Regions from separate parts of the Homo sapiens genome. Here region 2 is linked to region 1. Evidence: fine-mapped expression QTL. Tissue or cell type: monocytes after Pam3CSK4. Region 1 holds a variant in brackets; the other region holds the start of a gene. All regions are shown on one strand. Distances are from middle to middle.

Region 1 (8,108 bases):
CCTCTGACAATGCTTTGCCTGCATAGGTCCACTACTGCTCGATTTCATTCTGTAGACTGCACCCAGGGCCAGGTTTCGACATCTGGAAGTGAGTTTTCAGCAGACAGCTCCATCAGGGCTGTAACGATAGCTGAAGGGGAAAGAAGGAGCTCATATCTTGCAGAATCAGCTCTTCCCTAGACCATGACCAAAGGCCGATTCCCAGTAGTGTCTTCCGCGGAAAAACGCGAGACCCGCTCTCCAGGAACCCATCTCTGCCCAGCGGCGCCCTGGCACCGCAACCTCGCCTCGCAGCCCCGCGGACCAACACAGGCCCCGCCCCCAGAGCCGTCCGGAAAACCTGGACCGTGGAGATCCGCATGGGGGGACGCCGTGCAGTCGTGAGGCCAAGCTGAGCATGCTCGGAGAGCCGGCCTGTCGCGGGAGGAAGCGGTGTGGGCCGCGGGCGGCGCACGCCGCGCAGTTGTTGTGATACAGCCCCCGCCACGTGACTGCGCGGGCCCGCCTCCCCCGCGCGCGGCACCGCCTCCCCGTGACTCAGCGCTTTGTGCGGGCTCCGAGCCGGAGGTCAATCTGGGGGAGGCTTCTTAGGGCAAAGTCTCAGTCCATCACTCCTGACCTCTGGGCTGCTGCTGCTGCTAGGATTGCCGCAGTCGTTTCAGACACGATGGGTTTCGGGCCTCCAAGGACCAAAAAATACATCATTTTCTCTGTGGTCACGCCATTCCCAGTTTCCCTTGAGTCAGCGGCTTCGCGAGATCAAATAAGGAAAACAGAGAGAGTGCCCAGGGGACTCTGAGGAAGGCACTTCTAGGTTATCTGCCCCTGCCTTTACCGCTCTCTTTGGCTTGAGTATCCCTTGACCTTGGTGGTCTGTCGCTTGGGTCCCAGTATATCACATTCTATGCCAGGCACTTTGAGCTGGTATCCGTAAAACAGTACTAATCTTTGCCACATTTTATAAGTGAGGCAACTGAGATCCAGTAATACTAAGTAACAGGTAGTGGCTAAGCTGGGGTTTGAACTCCAGTGATATTTCAAAGCTGTCTACTACACCACTTAGCCTGGGTGAAGCTGGTGGCTGCCTTCAGTGTGATTCTTCCTGGGACTTGATGCCAACCTTCATTACATCCTTTCTTCTCCCTTGACACACCCTTTCCCCAAAACCCGCGGATCTGCCTGTGAAGTCCTTAAGCTTTTTGTCTGTTAAATTTCTTTCTTTTTTTTTTTTTTTTGAGATGGAGTCTCGCTCTGTCGCCCAGGCTGGAGTGCAGTGGCGGGATCTCGGCTCACTGCAAGCTCCGCCTCCCGGGTTCACGCCATTCTCCTGCCTCAGCCTCCCAAGTAGCTGGGACTACAGGCGCCCGCCACTATGCCCGGCTAATTTTTTGTATTTTTAGTAGAGACGGGGTTTTACCGTTTTAGCCGGGATGGTCTCGATCTCCTGACCTCGTGATCCGCCCGCCTCGGCCTCCCAATGTTAAATTTCTTAATTGGTGAAAACAAATAGTTAGTTATTTCTTAACTTCAGTGTACATGTTAAACAACAAAAGATACAGAAGGAATTTTCTCCCTACAATTGAATTGTACTTGGAATTTGACTTGATCTTATTCAAGAAGATCCCTGGGGGCTTTATGATGGAAGAGCAGTAGCCAAAAGACTGGGGCTTTGGCCCCATCTCAGAGGGCTACCTGCTGGGTCAATCTAAGCAAAGTTGTGATAATCATTGGAGAGTCCTTTCCTCTCATCTGTACAAATGAGAGTCTGGAGGAGATAAAGTTTCCCTTCCAGCCTAAACATTTTCTGATGTTATTACTAAAATTAGTTGAAAGAGTTCAAATCTTTTTGTATCGTGTACTATTTGTAATACATGCTGCTGAGGTGTGCTATTGTCATTGTCAAAAAAGCAAGGAAACTCTTTTGACCTTTTCCAAGCCAATTTTTAGTTTACATGGATTTTTGAAAAATATAAATGTGCTTGTTTTCATGTAGAGTTACAAAAGGTCTGTGAAGTTCAAGTGAAGAACTTTTTTAACATGGAGAAGTTTGAGTGTGCTAAAGAAGATGGGTAGGCATCAAAAGGGGGCAAGATTGAAGATGTGGGAACAAGAAAGGATATTTTCAGAAGCAAAATGTCTCAGGAGACCTGACTTGTTGGGATCCAGAACACATGGGAAGTGGTGAGCTTTTTTTCCTAGAAAAATCTCATTGTCTTCTTATAGAAGATAAAGACGCCATGATAATGTGTTGGGACAGGGCGAGTGATATCTGAGTCCTGTAGACTCACTCTTCTCACTGGAGAATAATTAAAGATAACTTTTTATTATGGACATTTCCAATAAAGCACAAAAGTTGAGAGAACATAGTATAATGGCTCTTCATGTACTTTTTTCTTTTTTTTTTTGAGACGGGAGTCTTGCTCTGTCACCCAGGCTGGAGTGCAGTGGCATGATCTTGGCTCACTGCAACCTCCACCTCCTGGGTTCAAGCAATTCTCCTGCCTCAGCCTCCCGAGTAGCTGGGACTACAGGCGCCTGCCACCACGCCGGGCTAATTTTTGTATTTTCAGTAGAGACGGGGTTTCACCGTTAGCCAGGGTGGTCTTGAACTCCTGACGTCAGGTAATCTGCCAGCCTTGGCCTCCCAAAGTGCTGGGATTACATGTGTGAGCCACTGTGCCTGGCCCTAGTTTTTGTATTTTTGGTAGAGATGGGGTTTTGCCATATTGGCCAGGTTGATCTCAAACTCCTGACCTCAGGTGATCCGCCTGCCTTGGCCTCCCAAAGTGCTGGGATTACAGGCATGAGCCATGGTGCCCACCTCTTCATGTACTTATTATTCATCTTTGTATGTTACAGTTACTTACCTCCTCCCATTAGTTTAAAGGAAATCTCACTCAAGTCTGATCTCAGGACCTGAGCTCTAAGTGAAGGTTGAAGAAAGAAAGAGGAATGTAGAAGATGAGGTTTGAGCAGCTGATATGGGAGGTGATCTAGAAAGATGGAAAATAATGAGCAATACCCTAATATCCGTAAACCAAAAATAAAATTCTAAGCCCTCCAACTACCTGAATGGACCACTCCTCTAGGCCAAGAACATTCTAAAGTAAACCTGAGGCCAGGCGCAGTGACTCACACCTGTAATCCCACCACTTTGGGAGGCCAAGGCAGGCAGATCACCTGGGGTCAGGAGTTCAAGACCAGCCTGGCCAACACAGCGAAACCCCGTCTCTACTTAAAATACAAAAATTAGCCAGGTGTGGTGGCATGCACCAGTAATCCCAGCTACTTGGGAGGCTGAGGTGGGAGAATCACTTGAACAGGGAGGCGGAGGTTGCAATGAACCAAAATCACGCCACTGCATTCCAGACTGGGTGACAGAGTGAGACTCCGTCTCAAAAAAAATAAAAAATAAATTAAAAAAAAGTAAACCTGAAATATGAAACACTACTTCAGGCCATGATGGAATAGGTGATCAGACATGCCTAATTATAACATCCTCCCTTTGGATTTCAGGCACAGCTGACCAGCATTAACATTGAAACAGACCTGAAGACTGACTAAACAGGTTCTTTGGAACAATAAAATACCAACATGATGGATAATAGGCCCTGAAGAAATCAAGTATTTTATCTTAAAATACAGTTCTTTGACATATTTTGAAATGGCCCTGCAAAGCTGTTTCTTGTGGGGAAAATCTACATCCTGTAGAGAATCCCCTTCCCTTTCCAGGTCTTTTTCCTGATCCAGAAGAGAATTAACGGAGTCTGGCACCTTTTTAAGTCTCCCAACAAACATTTACAGTCTATTCTCTTTGAAGCCTGCTACCTGGAGGCTTCATCTGTATAATAAGAACCTTGGTCTCCACAACTCCTTAGTTAACCCAGACACTCCCTTCTATCGATTCTAGGTCCTTAGGTAAACTCAACCAATTGCCATTCAGAAAACCTTTGAATCCACCTATTCAAATATTAGCGGGGACCTGGAACTGACCCTCTGATACGGTTTGGCTGCGTCCCCACCCAAATCTCAACTTGAATTGTATCTCCCAGAATTCCCACCTGTTTTGAGAGGGACCCACGAGGAGGTAGTTGAATCATGGGGGCTGGTCTTTCCTGTGCTATTCTCACGATAGTGAATAAGTCTCACAAGATCTGATGGGTTTATCAG[A/G]GGTTTCCCCTTTTGCTTCTTCCTCATTTTCTCTTGCTACCACGCTGTAAGAAGTGCCTTTCACCTCCCACCGTGATTCTAAGGCCCTCCCAGCCATGTGGAACTGTAAGTCCAGTTAAACCTCTTTTTTTTTTCCAGTCTCAGTTATGTTTTTATCAGCAGTGTGAAGATGGACTAATACAGTAAATTGGTACCAGTAGAGTGGTGTGTTGCTGAAAAGATACCTGAAAAGGTAGAATCAACATTGGAACTGGGTAACAGGCAGAGGTTGGAACAGTTTGGAGGGCTCAGAAGAAGACAGGAAAATGTGGGAAAGTTTGGAGCTTCCTAGAGACTTGTTGAATGGCTTTGCCCAACATGCTGACATGTTGACAATAATGACAGCTGACAATAATGTCCATGCTGAGGTGGTCTCAGATGGAGATGAGAAACTTGTTGGGAACTGGAGTAAAAGTGACTCTTGTTACGTTTTAGCAAAGAGACTGGTGGCATCGTGCCCCTGCCCTAGAGATTTGTGGAACTTTGAACTTGAGAAAGATGATTTAGGATACCTGGTGGAAGAAATTTCTAAGCAGCAAAGCATTCAATAAGTGACTTGGGTACTGTTAAAGTTTTATAAGGGAAGCAGATCATAAAAGTTTGGAAAATTTGCAGGTTGACTATGTGATAGAAAAGAAAAAACCATCTTCTGGGGAGAAATTCAAGCTGGTGTCAGAAATTTGCATAAGTAGCAAGGAGCCTAATGTTAATCCCCGAGACCATGGGGAAAATGTCTCCAGGCCATGTCAGAGACCTTCATGGCAGCCCCTTCCACCATAGGCCTGGAGGCCCAGGAGAAAAAAGTGGTTTTGTGGGCCAGGCCCAGGGTCTCCGTGCTGTGTGCAGCCCAGGGACTTGGTGCCCTGTGTCCCAGTCACTCCAGCCATGATTGAAAGGGGCCAACATACAGCTCAGGCTGTGGCTTCAGAGGGTGGAAGCCCCAAGCCTTGGCAGCTTCCATGTGGTGTTGAGCCTATAGGTGCACAGAAATCAAGAATTGAGGTTTGGTAACCTCCACCTAGATTTCAGATGTATGAAAACGCCTGGATGCCCAGGCAAAAGTTTGCTGCACAGGCAGGGGCTTCATGGAATACCTCTGCTAGGGCAGAGCAGAAGGGAAATGTGGAGTTTAGAGCCCCCACACAGAGTCCCTAATGGAGCACTGCCTAGTGGAGCTGTGAGAAGAGGGCCACCGTCCTCCAGATCCCAGGATGGTAGATCCACTGACAGCTTGCACCATGCACCTGGAAAAGCCGCAGACACTCAATGCCAGCCTGTGAAAACAGCTGGGAGGGAGGCTGTACCCTGCAAAGCCACCGGGGCAGAGCTGCCCAAGACCATGGGAACCCACCTCTTCCATCAGCATGACCTGAATGTGAGACCTGGAGTCAAAGGATATCATTTTGGAACTTTAAAATTTGACTGCTCCACTGGATTTCGGACTTGCATGGGCCCTGTAACCCCTTTGTTTTGGCTAATTTCTCCCATTTGGAATGGCTGTATTTACCCAATACCTGTACCCCCATTTTATCTAGGAAGTAACTAGCTTGCTTTCGGTTTTACAGGCTCATAAGCAGAAGGGACTTGCCTCGTCTCAGATGAGACTTTGGACTGTGGACTTTTGGGTTAATTCTGAAATGAGTTAAGACTTTGGGGGACTGTTGGGAAGGCATGATTAGTTTTGAAATGTGAGGACATGAGATTTGGAGGGGCTAGGGGTGGAATGACATGTTTTGGCTGTGTCCCCACCCAAATCTCAACTTGAATTGTATCTTCCAAAATTCACACCTGTTTTGGGAGGGACCCAGGGGGAAGTAATTGAATCATGCTGGCTGGTCTTTCCCATGCTATTCTCGTGATGGTGAATAAGTCTCATGAGATGTGATGGGTTTATCAGGGGTTTCTGCTTTTGCTTCCTCCTCGTTTTCTTTGGCTGCCACCATGTAAGAAGTGCCTTTCACCTCCCACCATGATTCTGAGGCCTCCCTAGCCATGTGAAACTGTAAGTTCAATTAAATCTCTTTTTCTTCCCAGTCTCAGGTATATGTTTATCAGCAGCGTGAAAATGGACTAATACAGCCCCCTCACCCCGAGTTGTCTCATGTTTCCCAAGTTGTCTCACATTTTCAGGGCATGTTTCTGGACTGAACCACCATCTTTCATGTACTGATGTCTTACATCCACCTAAAATGTATGATACCAAACTATATGTAGCCCGACCACCTTGGGCACATGTTCTCAGGATCACCTGGGGTTGTGTCACAGCCCATGACCACTCATATTTGGCTCAAAATAAATGTCTTCAACTATTTTATAGAGTTTGACTCTTTTTGTTGACATATCTTACTGGAAACCAATTTCTGTCATTCTAAATTTGGAGATGGTAGATCTTATCCAGTTTTTTCACTCCAAATTATCCAGCTATTGTTCCAAATTATGGGGCTTTGTATTTAAAAACAAAACCCAAAGCCAGAAAAACATGCTTGTCGCATATAGTATAAATGATTTGACAATGGCTGTGCATGGGTGATTAATATTGCTAAAATAGGCCAAGTGTCAAAATGTGAGTAAGATTGCTAAGGCATGTATTTACCTTTTTAAAGATATCTGATCTTAGTCTCTGCCTTTTTTCTTCCATTTCATTCACCTTAGTTCACATAAATATATGTAAAGTTCATTCTAGATTAGATAACACCAAATAATTGAACTTTGGCGCACTATAACCTATCATTCATGGATGATGAGATGTGAAAAAGTGTTAGCCATAATTACATCTATGTAGAAAGGCAATTGTACTGAATAATTGAGCAATTTTGCTTCGATAAGACCAGTTCCTAAAAGCAAAAAAAAAAAAAAAAATATATTGTACTTCCCGAAAGTATTTTTTCTCATACAATACCTCCTGCCACTTATTTTAGTACTTAAACTTTAATGTAGTAAGTACCTTAAGGAAAAAATTCAACTCACCTAAAAACTTATCTTACAATACACAGGACATCCCACAACAAGAATTGTCCTACTCTAAATGTCAGTAGTATCAAGTTTGAGACACTCCTCTATATGTTGTGAAAGGATAATAAATCTCGAGACCTCCAAAGCACTAAGCCAAGGGAAAAATCAAGCTGGAAACGATGTCAGGCAAACCTGCCTGCATCTCATTTTATTCCTAAATAAAATAGCTACAAAGATAAAAGGCTACATACCTCCCTCACAATTTGCCTACAAGGAATTTCCTTGTGGACAAGGGATAGACAGAAATCAAAGTCATCCTTCTGAGGCTCATCTGAGACAAATGCATATCTGATTGCTTCCTCTGCCATATTGTTTATATAAAAATGCAGATTCACTGAGCCAGACTAAATTGTGTATTCGGTGAAAGGCTGGTCAAAGACTCAAAGGAATCCCCCTCTGCTCCCCCCAACCCTGTGTGCCTTACTGGACTGAACCAAGGTACATCTTACACATAATGATTGATATCTCCTGTCTCCCTAAAACAAATAAAAGCAAGCTGTACCCCAACTACCCTGGGCACAAGTCATCAGGACCTCCTGAGACTGTGTCACAGGTATGTCCTTAACCTTGGCAAAATAAACTTTCTAAATTGACTGTGACCCGTCTCAGATATTTGGGGTTCACAATGTATTACGATGAACTCTATTACACGAATGCTTGTCTTTAAATATTTGCAAGGGTTTCCAAGATGGTCAAAAAGAATAGTTGAGAAGAACTGAACATTTACAATGGTTAGTGTCATTTTATTTGCAATTATCACAGGCACAAATATGTATATATAGTCACCTAGTGTACTCCTCTCTAATGTGCTGATGGAGCCTGTGATGGGAGGGGTTAGGGCTCTTTCTTAATCCTGTTTCTGTTTCTCTTGTGGCCAGTTACTTGTG
Region 2 (8,108 bases), 77 kb after region 1:
TTCACTGTGCTCAGCCTTGCTCCCAACTGTCAGTAGCTGCCTTTTGGTGCCTAAGAGCTTTTTTTTTTTTTTCTCCTGAACTGCAGAACGCCAGAAGTGCCAAGCAATTAACAACCCCAGAAGCAACCCTTAACCAATGATTAAATAAAGTGGATGATTACATACCCAAGCTCCTTCAACTCCCAGGGACATAATTCTGAGGTGGGTGTATGTTTATCCCTTTTTCAAGAACTTCCCCGAAGGATTAAGCTTCAGTCACCCACTGGTAAATTGCTTAACAGCTCAACCTCTATGGGTTTGGGTTGCTTTTTCTTGTATCACATGCTGTCTCCTTTATGGTGTACACTGCACTTTCCAAATTGACTACCTATACTTGAATCCTGTCTTAGATGTATTTCTGGAGGAACTCAAACTAAGGCAGATGGGGAACTATAGATTAAATGAAACTTAAGAGATGTCAACCAACTGCAAAGTGTGGAGCTGAGCAAAAAACAAAACAAAACAAAACAAACAAAAAAACTGTTCAAAAAGTTTATGAGACAATCAGGGATATTTAAATACTGACTGAATATTTTATAACATTTAGAAATTATTGGGGTTTTTAGGTGGCATAATACTGATAGGCTTATCTCTAAACCCATGATCAAATATTGGATATTTATAGATGAAATGTTAGGATGTCTGGGATTTGCTTTCAAATTAATATGGAGTGGAGTTGTGATTGGTGATGAGTTGACAATTATTAAAACTGGGCACTAGTATGTGAGACTTTATGATACCATTCTGTCCACTTTTGTAGATGTTGGAAATTTTCCCTAATTAGATACAAAAATGAAAAAAGCTGAAAGCTCTATGGGGATTGTTAATAACTATGTTCTTAGTGCTTAACAGTGTTCAGTACATAGTCAACAAAGAAGCACTCAAAACACTATTCATTGAACAACTGTTTTGTCTTATGTTGGGGATACCAAGGCAAATATTGTTGACATTGACATTTTTAGCTGACATACTGGAAATCTTACCAAGAGTTTTATACAGACTAGAGGAAAAAAATCATTTTATCAATTAGTACAATGTCGGGTTCAAAAAATGTTATACTAGGTCTACTTCTAACTAAAGTATTTTTCAGCTTGTGATTCATCACCGTCTGTGTCTTGAAGGTATATTTGAGTTAACATATATTTTATTAGAATGTGCTGTTTTTTGCCAAAATGCTGGAATTTCTGGGATACTTTGATGATTCAGTTGGACAGAATATGACACTGAATATTTGAAAGCAGGACTTGGTTAGAAAATCTAAGATTGTGAGTGCCGAATTTACCTAGTAGATATATGTTTCTGAAATTTACAAGGTAACTGCTTTTGTTGGGACCAAAACCACACAGCCAATAAAACTAAAACTGTACTGGGAAAATCATTTAAATAAAAGAATAGTATATTAAGTTGGAGGGTAGGGTATATTTGAAGTCTTAGAGGCATGTAAACAGGAACTTGCAAGAAATTCCAGCAGAAATTTTCCACTTTAAAAAATATAGATAAAGCTGGGCACAGTAGGGCATGTCTGTAGTCCCAGCTACTTGGGAGGCTATGGCAGGAGGATCACTTGAGGCCAGGAGTTCAAGGCTGTAATACGCCTAGATTGTACCTGTGAATAGCCACTGCACTCCAGCCTGGGCAACATAGCAAGATTCCATCTCTAAAAAAATATAAATTTGATATAGATGTATCTATATATCTGTCTCTAAAAAATTCTGTCACTTCCATGAGTTCACATTATTGCTGAGATTTATTTTCTTGCAAGATTTTCTAATAACATGATAGTCCTTGTTTTCAAGCTGTCAGGTAGTAAAACAGTAATTTAATTTGGCAATAACATATGACATTCTAAGAAGACGCATTAGAAGGTTTTTAAGAAGTGTACTGAAATATTTTTGGAATGTCCTTCAAACAGGCAAAGTTTAAACTGGAAAGAGCAAAAAGTTAAATATTATATATTTATAAAAAGTCAAACTATTTTTTCCTTACCTGGTTAAAAAGGTGTTACCAAGGTCGCAAAATAGCTTTGTATATTAAAAATTTTTTTTATTGGATTAATTCCTAGTTGTAGTTTAGCTACTTATTTTTGTTTTTCATTTATCTTTTTCACCTCTATGTAGCTTATGTTATTAAGTTATGTTATTAAGTTTTTAAATAAAACCTAGGAGGCTTCTTAATTCTTTATGAAAAATTCTGTGAGAATAACTAGCTAAATTTTAAAACTACAACCAAATAAGATTGACATAATAATATGCATATACATTGCTCTTCTCACATTAACAATAATAGATTTGTATCTTCTAAGATATCTCTGAGAATAAAATTTCCAGCCATATCATCAGCTAAATTAACTCAAATTTACTATCTGGATTTGGCTGTTTCACTTGTAGGTTAAAAGTTAAAAGGTTTGCTATTTCTTGGAATCAAAGGTTATTTAATGAAAGAAGATTAATTTCAATAAATGATGCATTTAAAGTTTTTTCCAACAAAGAGTGTAAGAGATTTATCACAGGTTCTAAATAACAAATTTAATTTCCCTAACATGTTAAGGAGAATTTTGGTTCCCGCAGAGGACTGAGTGGACTAATCATTTATAATAAGACTGACTTTAAACTTCCTTTTAACTTGACAGTAGTTAATTCTAACTTTATTAAATTAGAATCCCCATTAATTCACCCATTTTTCTTTCACCAATTTTGTTTTACAATTAAGGTTTATCTGCAGAGTTCTGTTTTGACCATTATGCTGAAAGTGCTGAGTTCTGCTGTTTGCCTTCCTTCAGCCTTTCTGGCTGAATGGCTTCCTGAATCTTCTCAGAGGTTTCCCTCTGAGCCCATGATGGGGTTCTAAAAGCACATTCTGTTCATGTACTGGGATAGTGGGATGTGAGGGCAGAGAAGTTCTTCCTGAGCATGAGTCCTTCATCCTCTACCCACTGTTTTATAAACCTGTCTCAAATTCCATGCACTTTTGGACCCAGTTACTTGAACTCTCAGGAGCAGGTACTTTGTCACCTCCAGAGGGAAGGCCAGCATCCTCCTAGCGGGTACTGCTGTGTGCTTGCCCCTGAGCCAGGAGCTTTGCATTTGCTCTCTCATTTGATCCCCTCAACAACCCTAGTAGTGAGGAAATATCTATTTCATACATGAGGAAATTGAGGCCCAGAGAAGGCACTGGCTGCTTAGCTGTGTGCTGTCACCCTGTTGAAACCAACGCCTCCTGCCTACACTGCCACTGCCTGTATAAACTGGTGCCACCCACGGTTATATGGCAGAAAGCAGTGCTTCGAGAAAATGGACCAGCAACCGCCATGTGTTGAACAGGCTATGGGCAGGAGGAAATAAAGCAGTTATAGCACCTGGGGGTGGAAGTCAAGGCAGTAACCAAAATAAAGTGGGAGCACGGAAAAAAGCTGGGGAAATAAAAAGGTTCAAATTTCACATTTCCTCATGAAGTCCAGATCAAGTTGGAGCTTGTTTAATAGCAGAAATTAGGCAGCCAGACCTGTCTGTAGGGCAAAGAAATTTTTGTTGAAAAGCCCAGCAAGTATTTACTCCGCTGTAACAGAGTCTTTTTCTAACTCCAGGATCTTTTCTTTGTGTGCTCTGTAGAATGAAGTGTGCTTGTTTTGGTGGGGATACATTTACACAGTTCTCCATGTTTTGTTTCATCTTTCCTCTCCGTGTTGTTGCTCTCTTTTTCCTTTGCTCTATCCAAAGATATCAGCCAAAGAAGCCAAGAAAAATGTTATCTTTACTTTAGAATTAGGGATTTCAGATATGGGTAGATGGCTCTGTTAGGCAGAAGTGTCAGAGCTGGTTATAGGAAAACCAGGCGGCACATACATGATCCCAGACACCGAAGTAACCTCTGTCTCACTCCTCCACTTCCAGCAAGGTATTGTGCTCTGAGGGGCTGATGAGAGAAGGTAGATTATGGGTCTGCCAAGGCTTTTTACTGGTCTCTGTTTATCTTTTTCTGAGTGCCAATTCAGCATGATCTAGACCAGGATCATTTGTTTGCAGGGATGGAAAACAAACTGAAACTGGCTCAAGTGAATGCTCACTGGAAGGCTTACTGGAAAACTTACTGGAAGGATGTGAGGACATGTTCGGGAATCTATTTGCAGAAAACATATTCAGGTATACTGGGAGCTCTCCCTCTCTCACATTGTCTCCCTCACTGAAACCAGGATTGCTGTCTATTTCCTTGGGGCTGTTGCTGTCATGCTGTCTTACTAACTGTAGTGTTGTGTTAGCTACACGACTGCTCAAGTTTATTTTTTTGAAAAATTGTGTTCCATTTAGCCAGGATGATGCAAGTTGTTTCAAGAAAGGCTATAAAATGCTTGCAATAAAAGTCATGTTCATTCACATTCATTAGGAAAAAATGAAATAAATCTATGCTGCATAACTTTTTTCATGCCAAGTGCGGGAGTGGAGGTTGTCAAATCAAGACTGGATCATCAAGTACATAATGATAGGGTGCCAAAATTCCAAGGAGGTTGGGAGTCACTGTTGTTGAGGGTGGTCAAAGAATTTGTTTCCCCACAAGGCATGTGGCTTTGGGCCAGCACACCTCATAATTCGTTCTCTTCTATTTCCCACATCCGTCTTATAATGTCTCAATTTAACCAGGGGAATATGGAGCGTGAACTCTTTCTATTTACCCTTTTAACATCCAGGTAGATATTTCTGAGATACATGGCAATGTATCAGGGTTGAGTTTGCTGCTCTGGTTCTTATCCTTTTTTTTTGAGACAGGTTCTTGCTCTGTTGCCCAGGCTGGAATGCAGTGGTGCAATCTCAGCTCACTGCAGACTCTGCCTCTGCCTCTTAAGTTTAAGTGATCCTCGTGCCTCAGCCTCCTGAGTAGCTGAGATTACCGGCACCTGCCATTGTGCCCAGCTAATTTTTGTATTTTTAATAATGGTGAGGTTTCACCATGTTGCCCAGGCTGGTCTCGAACTCCTGGCCTCAAGTGATCCACTTGCTTTGGCCTCCCAAAGTGCCGGGATTACAGGTATGAGCCACCATGCCTAGCCTCTGGTTCTTATCCTTTTGAAAGTCTTAAAGTCTCCTCTTCATTCATGTATCAAATATTTGATGAAATATTTGACCAGATGTCAGAGTCTAGAACATCAGACCGAGATAGTAAACCAGTGGGTCGTAAATAGCTACATGAAGGGCATAGAATCTAAACAGATCCAGAGTGAGAGATTAAGGTCAAGGAACTGGAAGGCATATCTGGATTTATTTATTTTTTTTAAAAAAATACAGTATTTGTTTGGATGGAGAATGGAAATAGAACTTGCAGTTTTGGTTCTCTGCAATGCAGGTTGGCCACTGCTATTGCTGTAACTCTGTCCTATTGTCCTACCCATACTACTGTTGTAACTTCCATAAGGTGGGACCTGATGAATCACGCACACTTCCAGAGTGTTTGGTCAGGGTGACCCTGGGTGCAGCAAGGATGGCCAATGCTGTTGGCATCAAAAGGCCAAGAGATGACTTTGGTCAGATTAGATAAAGACCATTTAGGGCCATGGAGATATGGAAGCAATTTTCTTCTTTCCTAGAAGATGATGCAATAGATGACAATAAGCATTTGGGTGAATCTCTCCAGCCAGGTTTGAAGGCAGTTTGTGTCACGTAGTGGGTGGGTGGATGGGGAAAGTTAGTTCTAATTACTATTCCAGGGCCCTACATCCAGAACCTTTCCATTTTAAGACAAGAGGGGGACTAACATTCCCAGCTCATTCGCAAATGACTCAAGAGAATGGGACAGAGGAAAGGGAGATACCATTTTTAATTCCCCCTGGAGGAGTCCTAATGTCCCATTAGTGTTTCAACTGTTTGGTCTAATTCAGGTATGAAGTACAGTGGTTTGTTTGTTTGTTTGTTTGTTTTGTTTTTTGTTTTTCATAAAATTGGTTGATTGATTAATAAATTGCTTGCTGGGCATTGGGGAACTATACATGAAAATTATATGACTTTAACCCTGAAGGAGCTCAGAATCTAATGCGGAAGATGGATATTTATGATATATAACAAGGGCAACAATAAATCTAGTACAAGATATGAGGAATCTTCCAGGCTTTGTATTGGACAAAATGTCTCTGGGATGTCCTTTACCTGGAGGCATATATGGGCCCAATGCCAGCTTCAGCTATTCTAAAAGAGACCTGAGTCTAAAGATCACACATTATCTCATATCAGGAGCCATGCTCACTGACTGAAATTTCCCAGTGGCCACCAAGCTATCATTATGGTCCCTATAGTCCCACTAATTATTATCCATCCCACTTTGCTACTTCTGGATCGGACACTTGACAGATAATGTCAGGGACAGTATAGCGTGTGTTTTGCCCAAATGATCTTTAAGACAGCCTCGTTCCCAGTCTGGCGGTTGTGTGGGAATCAGCATCTTCACTTCCTGATTTCTATTACACTCCTTCCTACAGCCCTGTCCACCACAGCCAGCTGGCTGAAGAGCTCAAAAGGCAAGAAATCAGCAAGAGAGAGAGATGAAGCATGAGAAATGAGCAAAAAACACCCAGCACATCATAATCTTGGACAGTTTAGCAGTACATGAAAATAGATGGTCCTCGCCCCAAGGGACTGCAGTAACCCTGAATAAACAGGATGTCTCTCACTTTTAGCAGTTCTTTCTGTGCTAGTATTGGGGAAATATATTTTTGGCTGCATGCAAAATGGTAAAAGACATCTATTAAGAAAATGAAAACAATGCTTCTGTTTTAGACGAAGCTTTTGAAGGTTTAAGGATCACCTATTTATTGACAAAATTGTTTCCGTGGCTTAAAAATAAAATACAAACAAATACTACAGGTATTCTTGCCTTCTCATTCTACTTAAAATCACATTTCCAAAGACTTTCTTCTCTACTTAAAAACAGGAATTAAGAAATACTCAAAAGAGATCCTAGACAAAACTAACATTTCAGCAACCAAAGATAAATCATGCTTTTAGAGGAAGATGCTAGGTTCTAGAATCTCTCTGAACACCGTGTAGCACTAAGAAACTACAATCACTGGCTGAGACCTTGATCAAATAATGGCTAACATATAAGATGCTTATTCTAGTCAGGCACACTTCTAAGAGCTGTATATCTGCTAATTCATTTATTCTCCTAGGATATAAAGGATCAGCAGATCCTTCAGGCTCTGGTATGTTCTGAGATGAGTTAACCCAGAAATTGTCATCAAAAGACAGATTCAGCAAAACGGAAACAGCCACCATTTTATGTAGATGTCCCTGTGGTTTAGTGCTACAGACCGGACATTTGTGCCCTTAGGGGAAAAATGATGAGGTCAGAGCAGACTGGGATAGATCAGGTCTGGTGCTTTTATTGTAGATCCTGGAACCAAAGATGATCTTATGGAAAGCCAGGTAGACAGTTCAGCTGAGGTATTCATCCATAGAGACTGGCCAGAAAGGCACAGTTTGGGTTGAAAGTGTGGGCACATGAGACCAAAGCAAGAGGGCTTGAAAATGGGGTAGACGCAGGAGACTGGAGAGAAGCCTCAGCCCCTGGGACAAAGTGGCAGGTTCTTTATCCAGGGTGCTGGTGTCTGGAGCGCTTTGGGAGGACCCTGTGAAGGGCATGGTGTCTCCAGCAATGTTGGGTGTACCCTCCCATAGTTCAGTGTTCCAGAAAAAGGATGGGAAAATTACAAGAATAATAGCAGGCAGAAGTTGTGCCAAATTTCATCCTAACACAAAATGTGGTTATAAACAAGGGTAAGGAGAGGGTTTTCATCTCCTGCTTTAATCCTGGAAAGCTCTGCTAGACTGTGATTCAGTCTCTCTTTTTCTAGCAGTTCTGGGGTTGTGATTCTTAGTCTAGGGATTTTCAGTTGTTTAAACCCTACTTGGCTTTTTCTAATGAGCACTAATGCCAAGTTTTTATCACTAAGCTCATAGATTTGCCAAAGAAATGGTGATACCAAGAAATTCATTGCAAGTTACTACCTGTAATCCATGTGTAGGGTGTTTGGTGTGTTGTGGTGTTCTTTAGTTTCTAATTCCTTATGTAGATGTCTAAAAAAGTGT

Which allele goes with the higher level. Positions count from the first base shown, and alleles are read on the strand shown. Sizes are in standard deviations (SD) of each study's normalised expression.
For the expression in monocytes after Pam3CSK4 of the gene that starts at base 3,867 in region 2, G is the high allele of the variant in region 1 and A is the other (moderate effect, 0.62 SD a copy in Quach 2016).

What was found. PIP is the estimated chance that this variant, and not a neighbour inherited with it, causes the effect.
Region 2: it holds the start of LINC01564, and the variant in region 1 is fine-mapped to the expression of LINC01564 in monocytes after Pam3CSK4 (Quach 2016, PIP 0.95). The same link has a PIP of 0.9 or more in monocytes after R848.

What each region holds. Positions count from the first base shown.
Region 1 is chr6:53,547,716-53,555,823 of GRCh38, forward strand. No RefSeq gene overlaps it. Among named protein-coding and RNA genes, the nearest start is that of GCLC, 6.7 kb to the left of the region's middle. RefSeq lists a silencer at 427-656. The variant A/G (reference allele first, on the strand shown) is at 4,171.
Region 2 is chr6:53,624,514-53,632,621 of GRCh38, forward strand. It overlaps LINC01564 (long intergenic non-protein coding RNA 1564), which reads left to right and starts at 3,867. Exons shown (of 3, transcript NR_125841.1): 1 at 3,867-3,933; 2 at 4,062-4,178; 3 at 6,500-6,881.